Homo sapiens: one gene and its partners. The protein of the gene in region 3 purifies or fractionates together with the protein of the main gene of each other region. This does not show direct contact. Each region holds a gene or a part of one and is shown on either strand. Other genes may lie near its edges.

Region 1 (3,500 bases), on a different chromosome or scaffold from region 3:
CAATAACAACTGTAACAAAGGCGAGGTCACTTAGGTCATGTGATCAGTACGTTCTCTTCCTGTAACCAAACCTTGACAGAAACCGGAGGCTAATCAGAAGCCACTTAAACTGCCACAAGAAATTCTATCCAGAACTCAGAAAGCCTTGCAATCAATTTTCTGACTGATTTTTTAAAATGCTGTTCTATTTTACAAGTAGACTCCAATCTCTTTTTGGAGCAAGACGAGTGAAATAATTATAATACTACTAATAATAGTAGCTACCAGTAATTGCCTATTACTATACATTCAGGCACTTTACAGGTTATACATGATGAAACTCCTAACCTTATTAGGTAATAATAACATTAGCTAAAACTTAGTAGCATTTACTACGTGCCAGGCACTATTCTAAAGTACTTTACTGGCTGGGCACGGTGGCTTCTGCCTGTAATCCCAGCACTTTGGGAGGCCGAGGTGGGCGGATCACCTGAGGTCAGGAGCTCGAGACCAGCCTGGCCAACATGGCAAAACCCTGTATCTACTAAAAATACAAAAATTAGCCAGGCGTGGTGGTAGGCACCTGTAATCCCAACTACTTGGGAGGCTGAGGCAGGAGAATCGCTTGAACCCAGGAGGTAGAGGTTGCAGTGAGCCAAGATCATGCCACTGCACTCCAGCCTGGGCAACAGAGCGAGACTCTGTCTCAAAAATAAATAAATGAAGTACTTTACTTATCAACTCATTTAATTCTCACAACTCATAGTACCTAACTTTGTGAGTTAGGTACTATTTTTATTCTTACGGACAAGGAGACCTAGGGGTTAGGAACTTGTCCAAAGTCACATAGCTTGTTGTCACTGAACAGGAATTTGAACCCAAGGAGATTCCAGAATCTCTGCTCTTATGGCTATGCTATATGCCTCTCTAGAAATATTATCCTCATACATGAATTCATTTTATTCTCCCATTCCCATGAGAAAGATGGTAATAATATCCCCATTTCAAAGATCAGGAAACTGAGGCTCAAGGAAGTGAGGTCACCTTAGCAGGACCAGGACTTGAATCTGGGTCTTAAACTGGGTCTGACTGCAGAGTCCTATGCTCCACTGCAGGGCTGCCTGGAAGAGGGTGCAGACTCTCTGGGGTCCTGCCTGGGCCCAACCTCCTCACCTGCTTATAGATGAGCTCAAAGGCTCCTGTGTCACAGTTGCGGTCCAGCATCCGGTCAATGACCACGCGCAGGGTGTCAGCTTGCACGCCAGCACAGAGCCGGGCAGTGACTGCTGTGGAGGGTGCCATCGTGGGGCTGGCGTTGATCTCAATCAGCCAGGGCTGGAAGTCCTCCCCGAACACGAAGTCAGCGCCATAGAGCTCAAAGCTGGCCTTCCGACACTGCACGGTGTCCTGGGAGGTCTGAAGTGCGTGGATCACAGCATCCTTCATGCCAGGCACGATGATGGTGGACCAAGCATTTGGGGCACCCATCTCCTGCAGGTGGGCCTGGAACCTCTGGCTAGACCACATGTTGTCTGGCGGAAGCAGTGGATGCCGATGGCATGAGTTCTCCAGGTGCTTCTGGATGGAGTTGTTGCACAGGTGCACTGAGCTGGGGCAGAGAACAGAAAACTGAGGTCCAGGCCCTTGTGTCTCTCCCATCCAAACTCAGGGAGGACAGGCAAGTCCTGGAAGCAGCCCTGGGCCACCCTGCACTATTCAACTTGAGATGGGGCCCTACTGGGAAGGACAAAAAGGACAGAGGCCTGGGCCCCACCACATTCTTCTAGGGCCAGAACCACTCTTATCTCTCAGGGCTGCTCTGAGGGCGCTAGTTACGGGGGCCGCAGTAGTAAGTGCTTTGTGCATAGTCTCAGTTAACCATCCCAGTGTCTGGAAGATAAGAGGGTGGGTAAGGGTATGGCCCCGTCATCGCCAGGACGTGTTCAAGCGCCATCTCCACACTAGTTGTGAGACCTTAGGGAAGTCATCTAACCTGTGTGCTCTTCACATCTGCAAAATGGGGGTAGTAACAGTACCCACTTCACTGTTTTTTATATTTTTCTTCAGACCTGGTGAACAAGAAGTATGCACTGGGTTCTTATTAAGAATGAGATCATGTATACAAAGTGCTCAGCACTATCACATATGAAGCACTCAATAATTGATAGCTATGAATTTCATACTACTGCCTCCATTCTTCAGATGTGGAAACCAAGGCTTAAATAGGTTTTCACATGACCAGATTCAAACAACTTGGAAGCTGCAGAGACAGAATTGGAATTCAGGCTTTAACAAGGCTTTCTCTCACCCTAGAAGTTAACACGACATCTTAGTTTTCAAAACTCCTGACCTCCTTTCCCCTGCTCTACATTTGCTTCCCTTTTTCCCCCAACGACAAATATAATCTTTTTTTTTTTTTTTTTTTTTGAGACAGATCCTTGATCTGTCACCCAGGCTGGAGTGCAATGGCACGATCTCAGTTCACTGCAACCTCCACCTCCCAGGTTCAAGCAATTCTCCTGTCACGGCCTCCCGAGTAGCTGGGACTACTGGCGCCCGCCAACACGCCCGGCTAATTTTTATATTTTTAGTAGAGACGGGGTTTCGCTATATTGGTCAGGCTGGTCTCGAACTCCTGACCTCAGGTGATCCACCCACCTCGGCCTCCCAAAGTGCTTGGATTACAGGCATGAGCCACTGCGCCTGGCCCAAATAATCTTTTAACCTGTTAGATAATTTCACTTGTGTTCTTGCTTGCCTGTTTCTCCCTGCTAGAATGTAAGCCCTTGAGAGCTGGGATCTTGTTTTGTTCACTGCTATACCCCAAGTGCCCAGAACAGTGCATGGCACAAGGTACACACTCGGTCAAATCTGTTGGAGGGGCCAGGCATAGTGTAATCCCAGCACTTTGGGAAGCCAAGGTGGGATGATCGCTTGAGCCCAGGAGTTTGAGACCAACCTGGGCAACATAGTGAGACCCCATGTCTACATTAAAAAACTTAAAAATCAGCTGTGGTACATGCCTGTGGTCTCAGACACTTGGGAGGCTGAGGAGGAAGGATTGCTTGAGCACAGGAAGTCAAGGCTACAGTGAGCCGTGACCATGCCACTGCACTCCAGCCTAGGTAACAGAGTGAGACCGCCCCCTGTCTGTTAAAAAAAAATCTGTTGGATGCAAGGACAGCTGGCAGGATGAGGGCCTGCCTGCCTGCAGTCTGTGTGTGGAGCCTAGCGCTGCTGCGCGAGTCCCCTGCACTGTAATCGCCTGTTTGCTTGCCAGCTCCCCAACTAGGCAGGGAGCTCGTGGGAGGCGAGCAGAGGGGCTCACTTGTCCAGGTTCTTCAGGGAGAAGGGCTGCGTGGAAAAGCGGATATAGCTGTCGCGGTAGAACCACACGGTAAGTGGGTTCCAGTCAGTTACCAGGAACCACTGTCTGAGGTCAAACTTGGTGCCAAAGATGAGGAGGGGCCGCTCAATATACTTCTGCACCACCCACTTGCCGTCCTTCATCACCACGGGGT
Region 2 (4,274 bases), on a different chromosome or scaffold from region 3:
TTGCTTTAGGGGGAAGGGAAGGACTTGTGGAAGGGAATTGGTGGAGCAGGGGAACCTCTGGGGTGGTAGCAATGACCTGGGTGGTGTTTGGTTTATGATTCATTAGGCTATGAAGGTACGTTGTTTTCACTTTTCTGTGTTACAGTTTATAACAAAATCACACGTCCTCTTCATATTTCATTGTTTTGCCTTTGAGATGAGGAAGAATGTAGGCACGAGCCTTAACTGTGCTGAGAAAAGACGGCACATGAAAATCTGAGCTCAAAATGTAAAACCTGTGAGTAGAGTTAGAGTAAAAAGTGGAGTGTGCTGCAACAACAGTAGACTTGCTGGAATGATGAGGTGGTGGCTTGCCTTGGGATTTTTGTTTTTTAACAGTGTATTAGGAATAATAAGGTTGCTCCAGGTGCTAAATTTCTTACTCCCCTTCTTTAGAAGTTGGACCTAGGCTGAGGGTCCACAGTTTTTAAATGTTTTGGAGTTTTCTGTTTTTGTTTTTCAAATGGATTCCCTGATCACCTTTGCCTTGAATCCCCAGAACTAACCTGCCTAAGAAGAGAGGAAAACTGTTGATGTAGTGGGAACGCTCCCTCCTCGAGCATTAACCGGGTTGACCCCACCCCTCTGTCCTCGCTGTCTTCAGTCCAATCAAGATCGGAAAGCAGGATCAAGAGAAAGATGATCAGACCGGAACAGGTAAACGTTCCATATAGAGATGCTTCGGAAGTGCGGAGAAGTGACAGCTTATCCCCTCTCAGGCCGTCATGTTCTCTCAGCAGACCCTCTGAATTACTGATGTCAGAACTTATTGGCTGGGCTACAGCACATAAGCAACTCCTAGAGTTTTAAGACATTAAAAGAAGGTGATTTCAGACAAGAAATCTAGCGCACCATTCAGGTTTCTCCTCGTGTCGAGGCATTGCTTCTCTCCCTTCCTGCCTCTTCCTGCCAGACTTCACCGTCACAGCTCTAATCACACCCTGACTGATCTGATCCCGCCCTGCCACGAGGCCCGGGTACCCCTCAGCGGCGGGGACATCCAGGTGTCCCTGGATTTCCAGGGCACAGTGCGGGCCGGAAATAGGAACACAGAGGAGCCCTTCGGGAGGCTCTCGAGGCAGTCTCTTTCCAGTGGATAGCGACACACCCTGGTCCCTAAGATTCTCATGCTCTCCGAATTTTCCGTCCTGGACCCGATCTGTAGGGCGCAAAGTCCCCTGTACTGAGGCGTTCCCAGGGCGCCCGCCTCCCGCGTTTACATTTCTTAGGCAAAAAGGCAGCGGAGCTAAGCAGGGGTGTTTGGAAGGCGCCCGTTGCGCTGTTTGACTGCGTGGCTTCACTTGGCCCGCGTGCATCAGCCTCTCTGGCGGGGGATTCTCCCCGGACTCCGGCCAGCGCCAATCAGGTCGCGCGGTACCTGCCCCCAGCCCTGGCCACCTGGAGGGGCGATGAGGCTCCACGCCCGGAGCAGGGCAGTCCTCGGAGCGCCGGGGAGGCCGCGGAGCCTCACGTGTGCCGCCCCAGCCGCTGGCGCCCGGAAGGACGCGCTGCGACCCCGTGGGAGCCGAACGCGGGAGTCGCTGCCCGAGCGGAGCTGCTCAGCCGCGGTAACGGGTCGGGGCCTCATCGTGCAGGGGAGCGAGCGGAGGGGCGGGGCGGGGCGCGGGCGGGCTGAGGAGCCGCCGGGCTCGGGCTCCGCGCGGGGATGTGTCTGGCCACCGCGTACTTTCGAGGGCGCCTCAACACCCGGGTAAGCGCGCCCCGGCTGCCTCCCTCTGCCCACCGCGCCGCCTTCAGCGTAGCAGTTCCCCACTGGGTCTGGGTCTGCGCCCTGGCTCTCCCTCTCCGCGCCAGGGGCCTCTCGCTCCGAGGGGCGCGGCGACTCGGGGGCATCTCCGGCCTCGTGGCCAGACCGCGGGTGGCGGTGCTCGCGCCTCGGGGCCGGACTTGCCGGGTCCCTGCCCCCGGGCCGTGCCGAAGGCGCTCTACTCAGCGTGTCTGCAGCGACCCGCTTCTCTGCGCTTTCAGCCGGGCCGGACCTCACGCGGACGCCGCTGCTGCTGCTGCGCCTCGCGCCCGCCGCCACCCGGGGAGCATGAGGCCGGGGCAGGGGACCCGGGTAGGGTGGGGGCCGACCGGCGGGGTCTGCTGGGCCAATGCGCCGCCGTCGGTCAGTGAGTCCGGATTCGTGCCGGCAACTGTGGGCAGCCTTGAGACCGGGGCTCGGTTTGCTGGTGATTTTTCCGAAGTTTTACAAAATAAAGAGGGCGAAGTGCCTTCGCGGCGCGGCGTGGGCATGCAGGCGGCAGGGCCTGTGGGAGCCGGCGTCTCGGCCAGCGAGTCTGGGGCCAGGACAGCGGGGGTAGGACGGAGAAGCCGGACGTGCCCGTGGGGCCGCGGTGTCCTTGCTCCCGAGGCCCCAGAGCGGGCGACCGCACTCCGATTCCAGAGGGCCCTGCGCGCTCAAGGCGCCGGCCACACGGAAGCCTCCGCCCCGCGGCCCAGAGGGGGGCCTGGCCAAGCAGAGAGCAGAGCGGGCAAGCAGAAGGCAGTGTGGGGACGAGGCCCGCATTGGGCTGCTGGGACCCCGCCACCCGGCCTGGCCTGGGTGGGGCGGGTAGAGGCCGAGAGCCGCGCGCCGGGGCCCTGGGTGGGTGGCATCCTGGTTCTCTGCGGCTCCGAAGGCCGCGAGGGAAGTCAGGGGTGCAGATCTGTTCCCTCGGTCAGCGCCCTTTGGCCGACACACACCAGCCGTGTTTTCCTGTCACACTGGGGGTTCCTTTCCTCTGAGTGGAACTGTGGGGCCCTGGAAGTTTGCTAGTCCTGGCAAGTTTGACGTGACGGGGACGCAGTCATCCAACCTGCAGGCGGAGGCCCGCAGGCACTTTCTCCTGTCATTTCGCCCACCTGGGCCCTCCCCCAGGGCGCCCAGGGGGCCCCATCCTGAGATTCCGAGGGGGCCGCAGCGTGGCTGGCAGGACCGACGTCTGCGCAGTTGCGTCTGTGTCCTGCTTGGTCCTCTAGCAGCTGAGCCAGACACATGTTTTATGTCGTGTGGGAGACAAACAATAACTGCGGGCTTCAATCCCGCATGTTCGCTTTGCCTAAGATTCGCTGGAGTCTGTGTCCTGAGGGGAAAGGCAGCTTTCCTTCTGCCCTAATGAAATACTTGCATGTAACAGACGTTCAGACCCTGAAAGAGGTGGACCCCGGGGAAGGAACAGTAAAGGTACATGCTCTGAAAACAGATTTTCTTAGCCTTCTCTAGGGAGGTTTCAGTTCCCATGCCTAAGAGAATCTAAACCAGCAGGTACAGACAGGGTCATGCTGGCGTCCAGAGGGGAAGTAATGTGTGGCTCTCGGAGGGTCCTGCTGGGGCATCAGGCAGATCGGCAGCGGCCCTGCCAGGGCTAGAGATCTGCATTCAGTGACCTCATCAGGCATACTGTTCTGGAAAGGCAAGGTGAGATGGGCTCGTGCAGATGAGAGCAGGTCCCCCTGTTTGGCCCAAGAATCTCTGTTTTTTCTCTAGCTTGCCGTCTGTAACTGGAAATGACCCCGGCTTAGTTCAGGGAGTGCTTCAGCCTGAGTGCAAACATCAGCTGGTAACAGGGGAGCCTGGCCCCAGCACAGTCCAGTCCTCACCCAGAGGCCCACGCTGGGATTTTCCTGATCTGCAAACTTTACAAGGCTGAGGTGGATGAGAGGAGAAGTTGGGAATCTTCTGGGTGGCCACTTAACAAAAAAGTCATTTGACTCTGGTAGGGCCATTCCAGGGTCTGTCCATTGTGAAAAGTGCCCTGGGGTTTAGAATCTGGCCTGGTGATTATTAACATTAATGAAAGTTGCTAACATTTATTAAGTACCTGCTATGTGCCAGACACAAGGTTTTGCAAAATTACTATTATTTCCCCATTTTTCGTGTGATGAAACTGAGTTTGGGGGTAGGGTAAACGATTTGCCAAGATCATAAAGCTAGTTAATGGCAGAGCAGAGCTTGAAGCCCAGGTCTCTTTGGTTCCAAAGTCACTACTCCTTCCTCGGGGCCACTTTCTTCCAATTAAGAACAGACACACATGTGGTAGCTGGAAATCCAGAATTGTCGTGAATAAAGACTCTTACTTGTAGATCCAAGAGATATTTATAACCCCATTAGACTCTAGACTTCAGAAAGTGCTGGCCTGGTAAACAGCCAGCACTTCCTTCTCTCTGTCACTCAAGGGTTTAACTCCTACACAAAGGACTAATTTCTTATTAAGTACAAATCTTTCAAC
Region 3 (3,926 bases):
TTCCAGGGGATACTTGTCTGGGGACAGTTTTAGATGTCACAACTTGGATGGGGTGTGAGGCTATTCATGGCATTAGGGGGCAGAAGACAGAGATGTTATCTAACACCCTACAATATACAGGACAGCCCCACTACCATATACATCCCCAAATGTCAGCATCAGCTTTTTTTTTTTGAGATGGAGTCTCGCTCTGTTGCCAAGCTGGAGTGCAGTGGCGTGATCTTGGCTCACTGCAACCTCCACCTCCCGGGTTCAAGTGATTCTCCTGCCTCAGCCTCCTGAGTAGCTGAGACTACAGGTGTGCGCCACAACGCCCGGCTAATTTTTGTATTTTTAGTAGAGACGAGGTTTCGCCACGTTGGCCAGGCTGGTCTCACCAGCCTGAGAGTAGCTAGTCACAGCTACTCAGGAGGCTGAGGTGGGCAGATTGCTTGAGTCTGGGAGGCAGAGGTTGCAATGAGCCGAGATCACGCCACTGCACTCCAGCCTGGGTGATAGAGTGAGACCCTGTCTCAAAATATATATATATAATAATAATAATATTAATATTTTTCCCTTTTTTGAGACAAGGGTCTCTGTCTCAGGCTGAGTCTCATATTGCCCAGGTTGGTCTCAAACTCCTGGCCTCAAGTGATCTTCCCTCCTAGCCTCCTGAGTAGCAGGGATTACAGGCATGAGCCACCACATCCAGCAAGGTAAGTATTTTAATGCAATACTTTTAAAATAAAATTTAAAATATTTGTAAAAAGGCCAGGCACAGCGGCTCACGCTTGTAATCCCAACACTTTGGGAGGCTGAGGCGGGCAGATCACCTGAGGTCAGGAGTTCAAGACCAGCCTGGCCCGGGCACAGTGGCTCATGCCTGTAATCCCAGCCCTTTGGGAGGCCGAGGCAGGTGGATCACGAGATCAGGAGATTGAGACCATCCTTGCTAACATGGTGAAACCCCATCTCTACTAAAAATACAAAAAATTTAGCTGGGCTTGGTGGCAGGCGCCTGCAGTCCCAGCTACTCAGGAGGCTGAGGCAGGAGAATGGCGTGAAGCCGGGAGACGGAGCTTGCAGTGAGCCGAGATCACACCACTGCACTCCAGCCTGGGGGACAGAGCGAGACTCAATGTCAAAACAAAACAAAACAAAACAAAACAAGACCAGACTGGCCAACATGGTGAAACCTGTTGTTTCACCTGTTCACCTGTCTCTACTAAAAATACAAAAAAAAAAAAAAATCAGCTGTGCATGGTAGTGGGTGACCTGGGGAGTGGCCTGTAATCCCAGCTACTTGGAAGGCTGAGGCAGGAGAATTGCTTGAACTCAGGAGGCGGAGGTTGCAGTGAGCTGAGATCGTGCCACTGCACTTCAGCCCGGGTGACAGAGCGAGACTCCATCTCAAACAAACAAACAAAATACAAAAATTAGCCAGGTGTGGTGGTGCGTGCCCGCAGTCCCAGCTACTCTGGAGGCTGAGGCAGGAAAATTGCTGGAACCCGGGAGGCAGAGGTTGCAGTGAGACGAGATCACGTCACAGCACTCTGGTTTGGGTGACAGAGCGAGGCTATGTCTCAAAATAAATAAATAAAAATAAAATAATAAAATAAAGTAACATAATTGTGAAAAGCAATACTTTTCAAAAGCAATACTTTTAAATACTTTTAAAGCTGGACACAGTGACTCACATCGCTAATCCCAACACTTTGGAAGGTCAAGGTGGGAGGATTACTTGAGCTCAGGAGTTTGAGACCAGCCTGGGAAACAGAGTGAGACTCCCTCTCTACGAAAAAGAAAAAAAAATTAGCTGGGTGTGGTGGCAGCACCTGTATCCCAGCCACTCCAGAGGCTGAGGCAGGAGGATGGTTTGAGCCCAGGAGGTTGAGCCTGCAGTGAGCCGAGATCTCACCACTGCACTCCAGCCTGGGCGTCAGAGTGAGACCCTGTCTCAAAAAACAAACAAACAAAGCAAAATTAAGGCAAAAATTCATGAAGATCAAAATATTGAAATTTTAAGACAGGATCTCACCATGTACTTGCAAGAGCCTACCTCTCCTGCCTCACTCTGTTTCTGGCCCCTCAGGGGGACTCATGCTCTGAGGACTTTCTTTTTTTTTTTTTTTTGAGACGGAGTTTCACTCTGTCGCCCAGGCTGGAGTGCAATGGCATGATATCGGCCCACTGCAACCTCTGCCTTCCGGGTTCAAGCGATTCTCCTGCCTTGGCCTCCCAAGTAGCTGGGATTACAGATGTGCATCATTATCCCCGGCTAATTTTTTTAAAAATTATTTTTAGTAGAGATGGGGTTTCACCATTTTGGCCAGGCTGGTCTCGAACTCCTGACCTCTGGGGATCCACCCGCCTCAGCCTCCCAAAGTGCTGGGATTGCAGGCGTGAGCCACCACGCCTGGCTAACGGCTCTGGGGACTTTCACACGCGCGTTCACACACACTCCAGTGCGGACCCACGATCTGTGCACGCAGCCGGCAGGTGAGCCCTGGGCACATGCATGCAAACCTGCCCACCTCCCTGCACGTGTGCATCTGCGCCTACGTGCACCTGCCCCACCTCGGCTTCCCAGAGCGCTGTCCCTGCCCGTCCCCACTCACGGTCGCCTCCGGTCGCAGGCCTCCTGGCTTCGGTGGACCAGCGGGGGCCCCCGCACACGCGCACTAGCGCGCGTACGAAGTGGTGGCCGCACAACTTCTCACGCATCTCTGGGGTGGGCGCGGGGCCCAACGCGAACACCAGGGCAGGGCCCAGCAGCACCAGCGCCCAGGCGGGCAGACGGGGGTCCATGGTGGTGGGTGGCGCCGGGGCCAAGCGGGGACCCCCTTTATAGGCGCCTGGGCCGTCCCAGCTGGGGGCCTTGGAGAAGGGACAGAACATTCTTCAGGACCGCCCAGGAAAAAGGTCAAGGGTGGGGTTAGTGCCAGAGCCTTTCTCCCAGGGCCAGGGCCTTGGATGTACTTCTCCCAGAGGGAGCACTGGGCAACGAGTCTTTCTTTTTTATTTTTTTCTTCTTTTTTTTTGAGATGGAGTCTCACTCTGTCACCCAGGTTGGAGTGCAGTGACTTGATCTCGGCTCACTGCAACTTCTGACACCCGGGTTCAAGCGATTCTCCTGCCTCAGCCTCCTGAGTAGCTGGGATTACAGGTGCGCACCACTATGCCTGGCTAATTTTTTTTTTTTTATTTTTTATTTTTAGTAGAGACTGGGGTTCGCCATGTTGGCCAGGCTGGTCTCCAACTCCTGACCTCAAGCGATCCATCTGCCTCGGCCTCCCAAAATGCTGGGATTACAGGCATGAGCTGTGCCTGGACTATTATTATTTTTATTATTATTATTGAGACAAAGTCTTGCTCTGTCTTCCAGGCTGGAGTGCAGTGATGCGATCTCGGCTCACTGCAACCTCCACCTCCTGGGTTCAAGTGATTCTCCCACCTCAGCCTCCCAAGTAGCTGGGATTACAGGTGTAAGCCACCACGCCCAGCCACCTATTTTTATTTTTTATTTTTGAGATGAGTTCTTGCTCTGTTACCCTGGCTGGAGTGCAGTGGCACGATATGGGCTCACTGCCACCTCCCTATCCCTGACTCAAGCAATTCTCCCACCTCAGCCTCCTGAGTAGCTGGGACTACAGGCCCACGCCACCACACCCGGCTAATTTTTTGTATTTTTTTTGTAGAGATGGGGTTTTGCCATGTTGCCCAGGCTGGTCTCAAACTCCTGGACTCAAGTCATCTTCCCGCCTCAGCCTCCCAAAGTCCTGGGATCACAGGCGAGAGCGACCACACCAGGGTATTTATTCATTTTTGACATAGGATCTCTCTGGGTTGGCCTGTAATGGCAGGATCATAGCTCACTGTAACCTCATTCCCCTGGGCTCAAGCGATCCTTCAGCCTCTGCCTCCTGAGTAGCTGGGACTACAGGCCT
Region 4 (3,500 bases), about 18 Mb from region 3:
TGCAGTTCCCCGCCCCTCCAGCCCCCTCTCCATCCCCGCACTGTTGGGCTGCACAAGCCAGGCTGTGTGCCTGCACTCTGCCCTGCACCTCCGCTAGCTAGCTGGGTGACCTTGGGCAAGGAACCAAACTTGCCTGAGCCTCAGTTCCCCGCTGTATCTGATGGGGATGATGAGCAAACCCACCACAGCGGTAGCTGGGAGCACGAATGGAGTGAACATGTGTTTGTGGACACTTAAACGGGCACTTCCCACAAGGCCATGGCCTTGCACGGAGGGCTCTGTCAACTGGTACCACCACTGTTGCTCTGGCATTAGCAGGTACAGGCCCTGATAGCCATTCAGAACTTCCTTTGAATGAATGAATGGAATCCTCAAAACAGCCTGGTGGGCAGGAGGCTGGGGCCCATGACAGCCTTGGGGAGGGCCTGGGGTCTTCTGGGGGCACAGTCTTTGCCTCAGGCCAACTCAGCAATTGTTGCAGAGGAATCGCAAGTGTCCCTAATTTGGAAGGCAGGAAATGGGGGGTATCTGAGAAGAGCTCGTTGGGCCAGATGATGGAAAGTGGACTGACAGAGCAGGAGACAGGAAGAGGATAACCATGCATGTGTGATGGCTTTGCAGGGCAGCCCATTCATTCATTCATTCAGGCAGTGGAAACAGGAGTGCAGACCCGAGGTGGGACCAGCCACCTGCACTCCAGCAGGCTCTCCCTCTCACTCCCCTCCCCTCTGCCCTGACAGCAGTAAAAAAATGCAAAAAATGACAGCGGTAGCACTTCCTCATCGGGTTGTGAAGGTTACATGAGTTTAATGCAGGTAAGGCACTTAGAATATGGGCACAGGACAGGTGTTCAGTAAACACGTATAAAATGGCTAACTAAAAAAAAAACACGAGGCCAGGTGCAGAGGCTCATGCCTGTCATCCCAGCACTTTGGGAGGCTGAAGTGGGGATCACCTGAGGTCAGGAGTTTGAGACCAGCCTGGCCAACAGAGCAAACCCCGTCACCACTAAAAATACAAAAAACAACAACAATAAAAAACTAGCCAGGTGTGGTAGCGCATGCCTGTAACCCCAACTACTCGGGAGGCGGAGGCAGGAGAATCGCTTGAACCCGGAAGGTGGAGGTTGCAGTGAGCCAAAATCGTGCCACTGCACTCCAGCCTGAGTGACAGAGTGAGACTCTGTCTCAAAAACAAAACAAAACAAAACAAAGAAAACCCATGAGGCCAGGCACGGTGGCTCACACCTGTAATCCCAGCACTGTGGGAGGTCAAGGATCACTTGAGCCCAGGGGTTCTAAAGCACCCTGGGCAACAAAAGTGAGACCCCATCTCTACAAAAAAATTTAAAAATTAGCTTGGCATGGTGGTGTGCGCCTGTAGTCCCAGCTACTCGGGAGGCCAAGGCAGGAGGATGGCCGGAGCCAGGAAGATCAAGGCTGCAGTGAGCTCTGATTGCACCACTGCACTCCAGCCTGGGCGACAGAGGAAGACCCTGTCTCAAAACAAACAAACCCCACAAACATTGATTGAACCCCCCATTGAGGGGAGCAGGCTCAATGGCAAAGGAAACAGACCGACACTGGCCAAGAATCACAGAAGCAAAGCACCCGGTTACTCATGATAAACCTGGGAAGGAAGAAAGTGGAACAGTTTATTCACTTAATGCTTGTTTGCTAAAGCCAAGTAGAAAACGGCAATACTAGATGTTTAGTGTGCTTCAAATACAAATGTTTGTCAAAATACCAAGTAAAAACATAAATTTATAAAACAGGAAACCAGAAACCTCCCTTACCTTTCCAATGTAAACCATGAGCCACTGCTGCCCCAAGGCTGCCTCAGGCTTCAGGAGTCCTCCAGGAGCTTTTTCTTTAATGCAGTGTCTGTTTTCAGGGACCCTCCTGGCCTTTGGCAGCCAGCTTCCTATTGCAGGAGCTGAGGGTCTAGGAGGGTTCATGGCGAGGTTGTCAGAGCTGGGAAGCAGAAAGCAGCCGGGCAGGCCTCACAGTCACAGAGTCCACGTCCCGGGCAGCATATGGAGAAAGGGTCTGGGCTGGCTGACAGCAGTCAGCATTGGCGCCTCTGAGGAGGTTGAGGGCTGAGTTGGGGAGGTCACCACCTGTACCCAGGCATAACAGGGGTGGTGCAATCAGCAAAGGGAAAGTGGTCTGAAGTGGGGCAGTGGTGAAAAGCTAGGCCAGCGGGGTGGAGCCCATCTGGAACAAGTAGGTGTGTGGGGTAGGGGACGCAGGTGGTTGCAGGTGGGCCGGTACCTGCTCAGCCTGTCAAATGGTGAAAGCCATGGACTATGAAGGTGGGGCTCAAGCAGGGGAGACTGACTCAGCCCTGCCACTTCCCCACAGCAAAGAGCCCAAACAGATCCCCTGGAGGGCTGTCGGGAGCCCCTACGTGGTGGAGTCCACAGGCGTGTACCTCTCCATACAGGCAGCTTCGGTAAGCTGGGGAGAGGTGCCCAGGGCTAGCTGGGGGGATGATGGTGCCAGAAGCCCCTGACACCTGCGCTTCCTCCCCAGGACCACATCTCTGCAGGTGCTCAACGTGTGGTCATCTCCGCGCCCTCACCGGATGCACCAATGTTCGTCATGGGTGTCAATGAAAATGACTATAACCCTGGCTCCATGAACATTGTGAGGTAATGTGGGCAGTGACATCCTGCAATGTGTGGAAGGGAGGGTAGACTCGTCCTCCCCACCCTCAGCCCCACTGGATTCCTGGTCGCTTGGCTTCTGCTTCTCCTTCCCGAAACTATCTGCTAAAAACGCATGACTTCCAGAGGACAAGCTTGGGGAGCCTCCCCAGCTGCACCTCAGTGCCTCCTTCAGTCTGACAGTGTCCCCACAGATCCCTCTCACCCTCATCCTGACGTTTCATAAAACCAAGTCTGCGTGCATACCCCAAGAGGGGTAAGGGTGGAGGGGTGGCTCTGCGACTCACCTCACAGTGTCCGTGCACACCTTGGCTGTTTCAGCAACGCGTCCTGCACCACCAACTGTTTGGCTCCCCTCGCCAAAGTCATCCACGAGCGATTTGGGATCGTGGAAGGGTTGATGGTGAGTTGAGGATGAGGGGCTGGGGCAGGAAGGATGGCAGGGAAACCCAACTTCTTCCCGGGCCTTGCTTACTGTATGGAGTTAAGAGGGAGAGACTGGTTTCGGGAGGAGAGGCCCACCAGTGCAGAAGTCACTTAAAACACTGTGCAACCCTCAGGCAAGGCTGGACCCTGGCCTGCACACATCCCCTCCTGTGGTCTGTGGTGGTGGCCCCACCAGCCTCCACACCTAGGCCACCAACTTAGTCCTGGAAAAAAGAGGCATGGGAGCTTAGGAGCATGAAGGCCTCATCTTGGTCCTTCTCTTCCCCAAGACCACAGTCCATTCCTACACGGCCACCCAGAAGACAGTGGACGGGCCATCAAGGAAGGCCTGGCGAGATGGGCGGGGTGCCCACCAGAACATCATCCCAGCCTCCACTGGGGCTGC
Region 5 (4,217 bases), on a different chromosome or scaffold from region 3:
GCCTGGCCAACATGGTGAAACCCTGACTCAACTAAAAATAGAAAAATTAGCTGGGCTTGGTGGCACGCACCTGTAATTCCAGCTACTTGGGAGGCTGAGGCATGAAAATCGCTTGAACCCAGGAGGCGGAGGTTGCAGTGAGCTGAGATGGCGCCACTGCACTCCAGCCTGGGTGACAGCAAGGCTGTCTCAAAAAAAAAAAAAAAGATTTTATATAGTGTGACAGGAGCCAGAGGTGGGGAAAGAGCAGCCTAAGGTGAGATGGATTAGGGGAGGTTTCTGAGTATGTCAGTGTTCCTGGAGAGGACTGTATAATTTGGCTTGGAGGTGAGGAATAGGAGTGGCTTTCTGTGCAGAATACATTTTGAGAGGGAAGGAGGAGGAGTTAAGACTAGAAGAAAAAATTGAGTGCCAGGGCAGAGACTCTTGTCTGCCTTGTTCACCGTGGGATCTTCAGCACCTAGTGCAGTGGTGGGCATATGGTATGTGTTCAGTGGGTTGATGCTGATAATGTGATGTTGATAAATATGTGTACATATAGCATTTGATGTTTAAATCAACATGAAATGGTCTTAGTGCTCTGTCTCTGTGATGTGATGTCAAACCAACATCTCTTGTAAAGACTTAGATTCTAGTCGAGTGTTTAGATTTACTCTGGAACATGAGAGATCTGGCCAGGTTCCTGGGATACTCGTGGAGTGGCCTTCCCTTCTATTTATCCCCCACTCCTGCCCCCAACAATATTCACATCTCAAGGATGCTCAAAGTTCCTTGAATCTCTTTAAGGGCCTTCTGGAGGAGTTGGGGGTCTCCAAGGACCCTTACCCACTTTGACCAGAGGAGTTCCACTATTATTTCTTTGCATTATTGACTCTTCCTGGTAAGATGTTTTTTGAGGCAGTGGTAGAAGGTTTAGGATCCACCATTTCACAGCATCTCTACAGGCCTCCTTCTCTAGAAGATAAGAAAAAGGTAGCCTTGTATATTTTTCTTAACAGATTCTTACAGTGTAATCTAAAAGTCTAAATATATTATGTGTGGTGGTGATTAATTAGCAAACTCAGCACAGCCTTAAGAAATGAAGATAAACCTAAACTGAAATTCCTCACATATTAAGATAATCACTAACTCAAATGTTAGGAAAATTTTAATTAACAGTTTAAATAGTTGACTTTAAGTTTCCCATTACTGAATTTTGCTCAGCTATCCCTAGGAAGGCCTGGAATAGTCCCAGTTTACACCAGTTAGTGCGGTTTTAATAGGGCCTCTTTCACTCAAGGTGCCCTGGCTTGGAGAAGATATATGGTGACCCTGGTAACCAGGACGTCAGCATTGGTGTTGTGTGTCCTCATGATTACTATTATTGTTATTACTGTTATGATGACGATGGTGATGGAACTCCTTTTCATTGAGTTCAGCTTGAGAATGTTAGTTGTGAATGCTTCAATGACTATTTTATTATAGAAGGAAACATCAACCCAAACCAGCAATATGGAGGAAACTACTCTCCCATATTACTCTCTGATCTTTCCAGTAAATGCCTGGGAAATTCTTTTCCAAGTGAGGAGGGCAAGAGGAGACCCAAAATACAAAGTTGGCACCTTTCAGGTGGGAGGCCAGAATAAAGCAGGAATATAGGGAGGGAAGGATGGTGAGTCTGAGGAGTGTCAGGAAGTCAGTGGGGAGATGTATCATTTCCATGGTGCTTCTGGGAAGATAGATCTGAAATTGCCACTTGCTCTGTGGAAGGAGAGGATCCTTGTTTGTTTTTAAATGTGGACTTAAATTGGGTGCAGCTAGCTCCTTGAGTTTCTGGAGTATCCTGAAATTATATGCTTGCCTTTTTTGAATGTTCTGCAGGGAAATTAAAGAGGGTGCTTTACTGTTGCCCTGAAATTTTCACCATGCGCCAGCAGGACATTAACGACACTGTCAGGCTTCTCAAGGAGAAGTGCCTTTTCACGGTACAGCAAGTCACCAAGATTTTGCACAGTTGCCCCTCTGTTCTTCGAGAGGACCTGGGTCAACTGGAATACAAGTTTCAGGTGAGAATGACTGATAGCGTGATTAGCGTAGTTTCAGGTGAGAATGACTGGTAATGGGATTAGCGTAGTTTCAGGTGAGAATGACTGGTACCGTGATTAGTGTAGTAACAGCAAGTTTCTCAGGTTTTTCAAATGTAGTGAAGGTCAGTTATATGGATAAGAAGCCTCGGACACCTCATATTTGAGTGGAGGAAGTGAAAGACTAGATTCTCTGCATACATCAGCCAAAGAGAAATCTTTAATTTCTTTACTACAGATCAAACCTATTCTTCAACTTTTCTGCCATTAATAATGAATGATCCAGTCCTATTCTTAGAGTCTAAGTGGGGACTCTGAAATAGCTAATTTTAAAATAGCTGAAACCTTCCTGTCCTTAGAATCTATTTTGCATGTTGATTTTGAAAATGTAATTTTAACAGTTGTCCGATTTTTTGGTAATAATTATGACAACTTAGGTCGAATTTCTAGATGTTTTCTGAATGTTTTGCCTATTCTTTCCATATTCATCCTTTTCCTTCCCCATTTAAAGAAAAATACCACCTCTTCCTTCTGCCCCTTCTCCCTCCTGCCCCTTTTCCCTCCCACCCCTTTATTTCCTGCTCCATGTTTCTCAGGATGAATTTGAAAGTGTTTTGAAACTGCTGGCTGTCACACAAATGTCAGTATCCTAGACTGGGTATTCGCTGTTGTCAATTAGGCAATTCTTTTTGAATCCTTTTGTACAACTTAAGTTTTTATGGTTTATAGAATGATAGGTTTCAATACTCTGTATCTGGGACTCCTAAGTGTGTTTGTGTCTTCCAGTATGCATACTTCAGGATGGGAATTAAGCATCCAGACATTGTAAAGAGTGAGTACTTGCAGTATTCACTAACCAAGATTAAGCAGAGACACATTTACCTGGAGCGCCTGGGACGGTACCAAACCCCTGATAAGAAGGGGCAGACACAGATCCCTAACCCATTGCTCAAGGACATTCTCAGAGTTTCAGAAGCTGAGTTTTTGGCCAGGACAGCCTGTACTTCTGTTGAGGAGTTTCAAGTTTTTAAGAAGCTCCTGGCTCGGGAGGAGGAGGAGTCTGAGAGCAGCACATCTGATGACAAAAGGGCAAGTCTGGATGAGGATGAGGATGACGATGATGAGGAGGACAATGATGAGGATGACAATGATGAGGATGACGATGATGAGGACGACGACGAGGCGGAGGACAATGATGAGGATGAGGACGACGACGAGGAGGAATAGCTGTGATGGAAGGACTAGAGCGAAAGGGCCCAGAGATATCAAGGAAGCTTTTCATTCTCTTAAAGCTTTTGGGTCCTTTACTTGAATCTTCTCAAGTTATTTTTTATTCTAAAACTGGTCTCTTGATGAAAAAAATTATAAGTCACCTGAGAGGCAGACAGATCAAACCAAACAGGAAACAGGAAATGCATGTTTGATCTGTTGTCACGTGTCTGTGGGGAGGGCCCTGTCCCATCCTGAATAAGATACTTATGTTGAGCTATTCACATCAAGGGGACTCAATATATCAACAATTGGTTTTATTTTTTTCTCTTTTGAATATGTTGGTGATAATTCCGTGACAGTTGGAAGATGGGGTTCATTCTTCCGGTTCAGGAATCACTATGTATTTCCTTCTTGTGATAAAAATAAAATTACGAGAAGGCAATGTGAGGTTTTAGTACATCATAGCACTTTATTTTATGAAAACATGTAGCAGATTTTCCACAAAAATGCTTATTTTTAATCCAAAAGTATATTGCTTCATAATGGTATTCAGTGCACAGCAGAGTAAAAGAAGTTAATTCATGATGTACTGGTTAATTTTGCATGGCTTCTTAAGGCCAGCAAAATGCTGGCAGTTTTCTTTATCTTTGTGAAGAACAGGCCCTTCCTGTTTGGGGAAGTTGGCTTTTATGTCAGCTCTTGGCCAGTGGTCACTTCCAAGCCTGGTGTCTCCGGCCCTGTAGTCTGTAGTGCCAGACTGTGCTGGCCTGGAGAGTGCTGGGGCAGGTGGAGGCCAGGGAATGGTCCCATACAGTTATCTCCCCTGCCCTGGTTACAGACAGCTTCGAGAACCAGAGGAGAAGAGCATAGGGTCATGGAGCAGGTGGGCTGAAGCCAGGGCCACAGGGAGCAATCCGTGACCCCCCAAGGTGGGTGTGGGGG
Region 6 (3,500 bases), on a different chromosome or scaffold from region 3:
CCAGGGAACATACAGCCCCTGAGATTTCAAATTTTCATGTCCTCCCAAACTCTCCTCATCCAAGTTACTGAATTCCTATGTTCTTTAGGTTCCTCATCTTTAAAAGGATACTGCCTAGTGTTTCATGAAGAACTCTTTAATTATATAAACACTACTAAACAAAAATAAACAAACCTAGTGAAGTTGTATACCTAGCATGGAGTTGCAGCCCCGATAGGACTGCAACTGTAGGTTCTGTATCATTGCTGCAAAGTGACACTTTTTTTCCCTTTGACTTTAGTTATTTCAAAAACTTTCGATACTGCTCCTATGCTCCCCATGTCCGAATATGTATGCCCTTGACGGACGGCATTTCTTCATTTGAGGACCTCTTGGCTAACAATATCCTCAGAATATTTGTCTGGGTTATAGCTTTCATTACCTGCTTTGGAAATCTTTTTGTCATTGGCATGAGATCTTTCATTAAAGCTGAAAATACAACTCACGCTATGTCCATCAAAATCCTTTGTTGTAAGTATGTTTCCAGTATAAGTAGATTAAGGATATCTTCTGTGAGTTGTGCACTAGACATATATATGTATTTATTGGCTTTCAACAAATGGCATTTAATGTGAATTATACATCCTGGGCACATTTTTTTTTCTAAATATAAAAGTTCTGGCTCTTTGTGGCTTTGTTTTAGGTTGTATGACCTTACAGTGGCCTGCTCTCAGGAGTATGTCTTGGGAATGGGCTAATAGGCAACCAATGAGTCAAGTGACAGATTATAAAGTTTTGTGGGTGATAAAACTAATCTGAACTTCAATTACAATGATACCTATGCTCATTAGGCCTGGAAAATGATTCCCTTTATTAACTATGAAGATACTATATGTTAACTGTTTAACAACTAGTCCTTCCTCCTTCCAGAAAATTCCCATTCCGATTTTTTTAAACTACAAAATAAAAACATAGTGTAGTACTTTAGAAATATTACAGATTTTTAAGTCCACTCGCTTCTTGGTACTCAGATGTTTACATTAGTTCATTTGATATAAGATGAAAGGAACTAGATCTAATTAGAAAATTAAAATGCTGGAAATAGACTTAATCAGAAAACTAAAACAGGGACATTGGAAACTGATGACATACACTGTTTCAATTCTTCCACAGGTGCTGATTGCCTGATGGGTGTTTACTTGTTCTTTGTTGGCATTTTCGATATAAAATACCGAGGGCAGTATCAGAAGTATGCCTTGCTGTGGATGGAGAGCGTGCAGTGCCGCCTCATGGGGTTCCTGGCCATGCTGTCCACCGAAGTCTCTGTTCTGCTACTGACCTACTTGACTTTGGAGAAGTTCCTGGTCATTGTCTTCCCCTTCAGTAACATTCGACCTGGAAAACGGCAGACCTCAGTCATCCTCATTTGCATCTGGATGGCGGGATTTTTAATAGCTGTAATTCCATTTTGGAATAAGGATTATTTTGGAAACTTTTATGGGAAAAATGGAGTATGTTTCCCACTTTATTATGACCAAACAGAAGATATTGGAAGCAAAGGGTATTCTCTTGGAATTTTCCTAGGTAAATTATATTTTTTCATTTCCTGGAAAAACATAATTTTGCTAGAAATACGTTAAATTTCAGCAAAGGTGGATTTGTTTGTTTCAGAAAGTGAGATAACATAGTCAAGACTGTGTCCTTTTTCACACAAAAAAGTTTTTACTATTGTGTTTATTGAAGTTTTATTAAACTTTTTATTAGACAATATTTAGTGTGGAAAATAAAGACATACTACCAGGATCTCTGGATGATATTTTTATTATCCATAAGATCCTTTGATTTCATGTTTATATGAAATGACTATGAGCTGAAGGAATTCCAGTTTAGTGCCTCATCCTGTAAACCTACCAAGTTATTTAAACTCTTTTTTTTTTTTTTACAATCTAGTTATGAGTTAAGTAAATAATAATAAAACTCAGGAAACTGACAAGTAAGAGATATCTGAATGGAAATACCAGGAAGGTTTATTGCCTTTGTTAAATGCAGCTGTTAAGTCAGCAATGTAAGGGTGCTTAATAAAGCTCTTTCCTTTCCAGTTTTCTCAATTCCTTCTAATATTGTAAAAGAAGACTCTGTGTTCTTTAGAAATGAATGACAAATTTAGCCCTTTAAAGTTAAAAACACTTTTTTTCTATTTTCTAATATGTATCCCTCCTGCTTAGAATTAAGGCCTTTCCTATATCCTCTCTTTGGGGCGATCTTCTTTTGACTCTCTCTTCTAATCTTTTCTTCCCATCCAAGGAGCCAACAAGCTCTTCTGTCCTTTCTTTTTCTTCAAAATTTGCTTCTGCTTCTGCTCCTTCCAGTCTCTACCCACTGCTGTTGCCTTAGTTGGAAACCTTACTCCCTCAACCCTGAATTATTACCTTATCCCTTACTGGTCTCGTAACCTCTGGGACCTTCCCCTTCCTCTCATTTATCTATTCACTACCATTGTTATATTCTCTGACTATCAAAAGGACTGTGTACACCTCCACTCAGAGACCTTCAGTGGCTCCCTAGTACTATCAAGGTCAAGTTTAAATTAGTCACTTAAAACTCATCATGACATGACCCTAACCATCATGCCCAGTTCTTCTCCATTACTCCTTCTCTTCCTCCTCTGAAAAACAGAACATTTAGTTTGCACCACTTTAGTAATACCCCTCACACACTACCCTATTTGGTAGTTATTTGGTCATAGATATGTCATTCCCAGGATCCAGAGTATTACAGGCTGTTCTTTGTATTTCCTTATCATTCATTCCCTCATTACTCCTAACATAGGTGCACTTAATAGAGACTCTCCCTGAAACACACACCACACACACACACACACACACACACACACACACACACACACCATGACATGCATTGTTCAAATAGGCATTTATTCAGCACTCACTATAGGCTGTGCACTATATACTATATTAGGTACGGGAGAAACAACAGATCCAGCCTCAAAGGCCTTACAGACCACAGAGGAGGAGGCAGACAAGTCAACATGTCCTCACATCACACACAGGCTGATAAATGCCATCAAGGAAGAGTACAGAATGTTCTAGGAGCCCCAGATCTGAGTAACAGGGAAGGCTTCCCAAAAGAAATGAATTCAAACTGAGGCCCAAAGGATGAGGAGGTATTAGCCAAGCGAAGGCAGAGGAGGGTGGGGTGGGGTCTGTGTTCCAGGAAGACATAGTGGATTCCCAGGCTCAAAGCCAGGGAACAGGGTAAGATGAAGGACTGAAGAAACTCATTTGGTGGAGCATACCATGCAGGCATGGAGCTCGGCCCAAAGGAGTTAAGTATCTGGGATATATTCCAGATAGACAAAGAGATCGTCACACACACACACAAACACACACTCACAAAATCATCATCATCATCAATTTGCATATGAGAGGAAGAGTCCCAGAGCTCTAAAGTACAATTTTTTTTCTGTTTGAAGAATATAAGAATACATAATTTTTAATTAATTT
Region 7 (3,500 bases), on a different chromosome or scaffold from region 3:
ACGATCAGTGCCACACGAGACGACAGCATGCAGATGGAGCAGATCTGCCATCTGAGCATGTCGGAGACAGACAGAAACCTCCAAGGAGGAAGTAAAACCCGAATCAAAGAACAGGAGAGAGAAGGAAGAATGGGGAGATGAGGCGCGGGCGAGGAAGGTCCACACACACAGGCGCAGGGACCCTTCAGCCCTGCAGACTGTGCCATGGAGGCGGCTGGCAGCCTGAGCGGCCCCTCGCTCATGGACACCCCCGACGGCAAATGACCCTCCCGGTCTCTGGGCAGGGCCCCCACCCCGCAGAGAGGCTGCCGAACAGGGGGGGCTTGTGGATGAGTGGTCAGAAGGAACTGTAAAATATCAAGTTTTTCAAAAGGTGACGAATGTGGCAACACAGAGGAAACTGGGGCGCCTGGATTCAAGCCAGGATAACTTACAGGTGTGCTCAGAAACTCGGGCCACGGTCCCCAGGCCCACCGCCCCCAGGCTCGCCATTTCCCAGGCCCACCTGTAAACCCCTTCCCCAGCTTCTCTCTCTCCTGGGACAGGAGCCAGCTCAGCCCAAGGTCAGCCATGCAGCCCCAGCTTCCTTTCCATGGCGCCACCTCAAGGGAAGACACAGCGACTCTGCCTGGCGACAGGTCTAGTAACACATACCCGAGCATCAGCCCGAAACTCCCTTTTCCTCCGGATCTTCTTGAAGATTTCCGTCAGCTCATCTCTGGCCTCCTCATCGGTGGCGCTGGCTCCCGCGGCAGCCTCGGAGGCAGCTGCTGTGGCCCCCTCGGCCTCTGGGGGAGCTTGGCCAGGAAGAGGCGTGTCTATGGTCGGGTCTTCTGCGTGTTCAATTAGCCACTCCATGGCCTGAGGCACCGACATGCTGCAAGGCAAGAGACTCTTTCCAACATCCCCAGACTAACGGACCAGGGCCTTCGCCTCCTGTCCATTCCCAAGAAGAGCCTCTGCTATGGTAGTGACTTCTCCAGCATCAGCTGGTGACCCTTATAACAAGAACCTGAATGAACACAGGTGCGACGGAAGCGCTGGTCCTTGCCTCAGACTACCTTGAGACCCTGGGCAGAATCAGAAGCCCATGTCTAAGGAGAGGCAAGCGGACCCAGAGATATCTGCTGAGGGCTTAGATAGGGACCACAGGGGGAACTGCCCCCGGCTGCCCCTGGATCTCGGATTATTCATTTTAGATCTGAACACAGAAGCAGGGCAAGTAACTCACACGGGAATCCTGAGAAGACTGTTAGAGGCCGTGTCCCTGCTACGAACGGGATTCACCTTGAGTTCTCATACAACGGCCCAAAGAGAATTTACACAACGACTGTTCTGTCACATTCACCCCAAAAACACTTTGGAGGCACATATTTAAGGTACCTCTTCAAAACCCCACGTTAGAAATGATTCAGTCAAAGAGTTTAGGGTAGGAGGACGTCACCCACGGTGGGAGCCCCACAAAACCAGGCCCCAGGTGTCTCCGGCAAGGGAAGGAGGTGGCCCCCCACGCACTGGTTCAGCTGAAGGGCCTTGGTGGCTCTGTTCTCCGGAAAGCCCATCTCCGTGAGCTGCCGCAGGGCAGCCTCGTCCACACGCTCATCCTCGTCCTCGTCCAGCATTGCTGCAGGGAGACGACAGGGCCATGAGGGCTCCAGCCTCAGGTTCAGGGGCCTTATCTGAGCACAAACATTTGCAGCAATTATCTGTCTGAGCTCCACCTGCCCGCCCTCAGGCACATCAACAGGAGTTGCCGGTGAGGCAGGCCCCAGGCCCTCATCAGCGCTTCCATAAAGCACTGAGGTTCCGGTCAGTGGTCAGTGCGTGGAGCTGCAGACGCTCCCCAAGGCCGGCAGTGAACCGCCCTGGAATGCAGCATCGGGGTTGACTCATACCATTCGCCTTCTTAAACAATTCCACTGCATCTGGGTTCAGCGCTAACAGCTTCTGCGCCACCTCGATGAGAGACACCAGTATCTTCCGGAGTTCTGTCTGGAACTGTGGTGAAAAAAAAGGAGATCAATTCTCTAAATGTCCACCAAACCTACTTGGATCTATGACTTGCTCCCCTGTCCTAGAACTCTTGATTCTGAGAGTTGAGATGACATTGCTTTCTTGCAAGACAGCAGGATCAGCTGAGGGCAAGGCAGGGGATTGGCAGGGCCAAGAGCCTCCCTGCAGGTGGGACTGAAGCCAGTGGAAAGGGACAGGAACGCCTGGTGACGGTCACTCAGTGCTGGCCCGATACTCAGCCTGTGCCCTGTGAGGAAACCGTCGGCCCAGCTGGCGCAGGTGCAGGGCAAGCTGAAGACCCTCTCTGGCTTCACTGAAGAAAACAGAATCATCTGAGGCTCCACCCCCATGAGTCTGCCAGCCCCCAGTGGAGGCATGGCTGCCACACAGCGTCTGCGGCGGCCATCACTGTCCTCCCCAGGCAGGAGGAGCCGTGGGATGGACCGGAGATGCCCTCCAGAACAGCTCCTGGCTACAGGGCCTAGAGGTCAGGCGTCAGCTGTCCCTACTCTCACACAAGTGTGAGCCTTGGTGCGGACACCACACTAGAGAAATACCTCTGAGCCGGACACACACAGGATGGGAGACACACATGCTGGCTGCTGGGGAAAAGCCACCATGCCCTGGTCAGCACAGAACTCTCTGGAAGACACCCCAAGAGGTTCATTCCTAAAATGAAACAGGGCTTATAGCAGTGCCCTTAGGTTGGACTGGCATCAGATGAAGTTGGAAGCCAGCCGTCCTCCCACCCCGGCACAGCACGTGCCTGCCCTGCCTGCTGCGGCGTCCACGTGAGCACTGCAAACACTTTTCTTTTTTAACTTAGAATGTTCTGACCCAAAATAACTCACGGGTTCAGATTTGTGTGTTTTTTTTTTTCTTGAGACGGAGTTTCGCTCTTGCTGCCGAGGCTGGAGTACGATGATGCAATCTCGGCTTACTGCAACCTCCGCCTCCCGGGTTCAAGTGATTCTCCTGTCTCAGCCTCCTGAATAGCTGGGATTACAGGTGCCTGCCACTACGCCCGGCTAATTTTTGGTATTTTTAGTAGAGACGGAGTTTCATCATGTTGGCCAGGCTGGTCTCGAACTTCTGACCTCAGGTGATCCACCCGCTTCGGGTTCAGAATTCTATCTAAACGTTTTGCCAAACTCAGGGCCGGATTGACGTTTTCCCAGGGGTATCTATCTTTTCAATCCTGCCTTCAGATGGCTTTCCAACTCTTACTTGGAAATAATTTTTGATTTACAGAAAAAATGCAAAATAGTGCAGTCCTACAGACCCGCTCACCGGCTTCCCCAAATCCTCCCAGAGAATCTCCTCTTGCTGCCCCGCCCCGCAGGAACCCCCCCACAGCAATCCCCCACACGGGGACCCCATGCACCCGCCGCCGCTCTGGGCTGACACTCACGTCTCTCATGTTGGTCTGGACCGCGGCCCGGTCCATGTTGTAGGAGGGCAGGTTGGCGGTGGCCCGCAGTATGGCC

What was found.
Region 1: the proteins of INSL3 (region 3) and ARPC4-TTLL3 purify together in Homo sapiens (affinity purification with mass spectrometry, with the first as the bait; one large-scale study listed by BioGRID). This does not show direct contact.
Region 2: the proteins of INSL3 (region 3) and FAM163A purify together in Homo sapiens (affinity purification with mass spectrometry; one large-scale study listed by BioGRID and IntAct). This does not show direct contact.
Region 4: the proteins of INSL3 (region 3) and GAPDHS purify together in Homo sapiens (affinity purification with mass spectrometry; 3 studies listed by BioGRID and IntAct, with this or other methods). This does not show direct contact.
Region 5: the proteins of INSL3 (region 3) and MTERF4 purify together in Homo sapiens (affinity purification with mass spectrometry; 3 studies listed by BioGRID and IntAct, with this or other methods). This does not show direct contact.
Region 6: the proteins of INSL3 (region 3) and RXFP2 purify together in Homo sapiens (affinity purification with western blotting, with the first as the bait; one study listed by BioGRID). This does not show direct contact.
Region 7: the proteins of INSL3 (region 3) and UBAC1 purify together in Homo sapiens (affinity purification with mass spectrometry; 3 studies listed by BioGRID and IntAct, with this or other methods). This does not show direct contact.

The regions. Positions count from the first base shown.
Region 1 is NC_000003.12:9,827,048-9,830,547, reverse strand, and holds part of ARPC4-TTLL3 (ARPC4-TTLL3 fusion protein), read right to left. Parts: coding exon 3,308-3,500; intron 1,589-3,307; coding exon 1,153-1,588; intron 1-1,152. Other genes in the region: tubulin monoglycylase TTLL3, read right to left, coding at 1,153-1,588, 3,308-3,500.
Region 2 is NC_000001.11:179,741,817-179,746,090, forward strand, and holds the start of FAM163A (protein FAM163A), read left to right. Parts: upstream 1-1,474; 5' UTR 1,475-1,607; exon of another isoform or gene 1,608-1,750; intron 1,751-4,274.
Region 3 is NC_000019.10:17,818,720-17,822,645, forward strand, and holds the start of INSL3 (insulin-like 3 isoform 2 precursor), read right to left. Parts: upstream 2,801-3,926; 5' UTR 2,788-2,800; coding exon 2,598-2,787; intron 1,772-2,597; coding exon of another isoform or gene 1,677-1,771; intron 1-1,676. UniProt on the Homo sapiens protein: Seems to play a role in testicular function. May be a trophic hormone with a role in testicular descent in fetal life. Is a ligand for LGR8 receptor.
Region 4 is NC_000019.10:35,539,956-35,543,455, forward strand, and holds part of GAPDHS (glyceraldehyde-3-phosphate dehydrogenase, testis-specific), read left to right. Parts: intron 1-782; exon of another isoform or gene 783-1,629; intron 1,630-1,795; exon of another isoform or gene 1,796-2,119; intron 2,120-2,363; coding exon 2,364-2,454; intron 2,455-2,534; coding exon 2,535-2,653; intron 2,654-2,955; exon of another isoform or gene 2,956-2,989; coding exon 2,990-3,071; exon of another isoform or gene 3,072-3,318; intron 3,319-3,384; coding exon 3,385-3,500. UniProt on the Homo sapiens protein: May play an important role in regulating the switch between different pathways for energy production during spermiogenesis and in the spermatozoon. Required for sperm motility and male fertility.
Region 5 is NC_000002.12:241,095,071-241,099,287, reverse strand, and holds the end of MTERF4 (transcription termination factor 4, mitochondrial), read left to right. Parts: intron 1-1,860; coding exon 1,861-2,045; intron 2,046-2,849; coding exon 2,850-3,290; 3' UTR 3,291-3,717; downstream 3,718-4,217. UniProt on the Homo sapiens protein: Regulator of mitochondrial ribosome biogenesis and translation. Binds to mitochondrial ribosomal RNAs 16S, 12S and 7S and targets NSUN4 RNA methyltransferase to the mitochondrial large ribosomal subunit (39S).
Region 6 is NC_000013.11:31,791,526-31,795,025, forward strand, and holds part of RXFP2 (relaxin receptor 2), read left to right. Parts: intron 1-280; coding exon 281-510; intron 511-1,152; coding exon 1,153-1,563; intron 1,564-3,500. UniProt on the Homo sapiens protein: Receptor for relaxin. The activity of this receptor is mediated by G proteins leading to stimulation of adenylate cyclase and an increase of cAMP. May also be a receptor for Leydig insulin-like peptide (INSL3).
Region 7 is NC_000009.12:135,944,374-135,947,873, forward strand, and holds part of UBAC1 (ubiquitin-associated domain-containing protein 1), read right to left. Parts: coding exon 3,425-3,500; intron 1,999-3,424; coding exon 1,896-1,998; intron 1,625-1,895; coding exon 1,516-1,624; intron 878-1,515; coding exon 655-877; intron 1-654.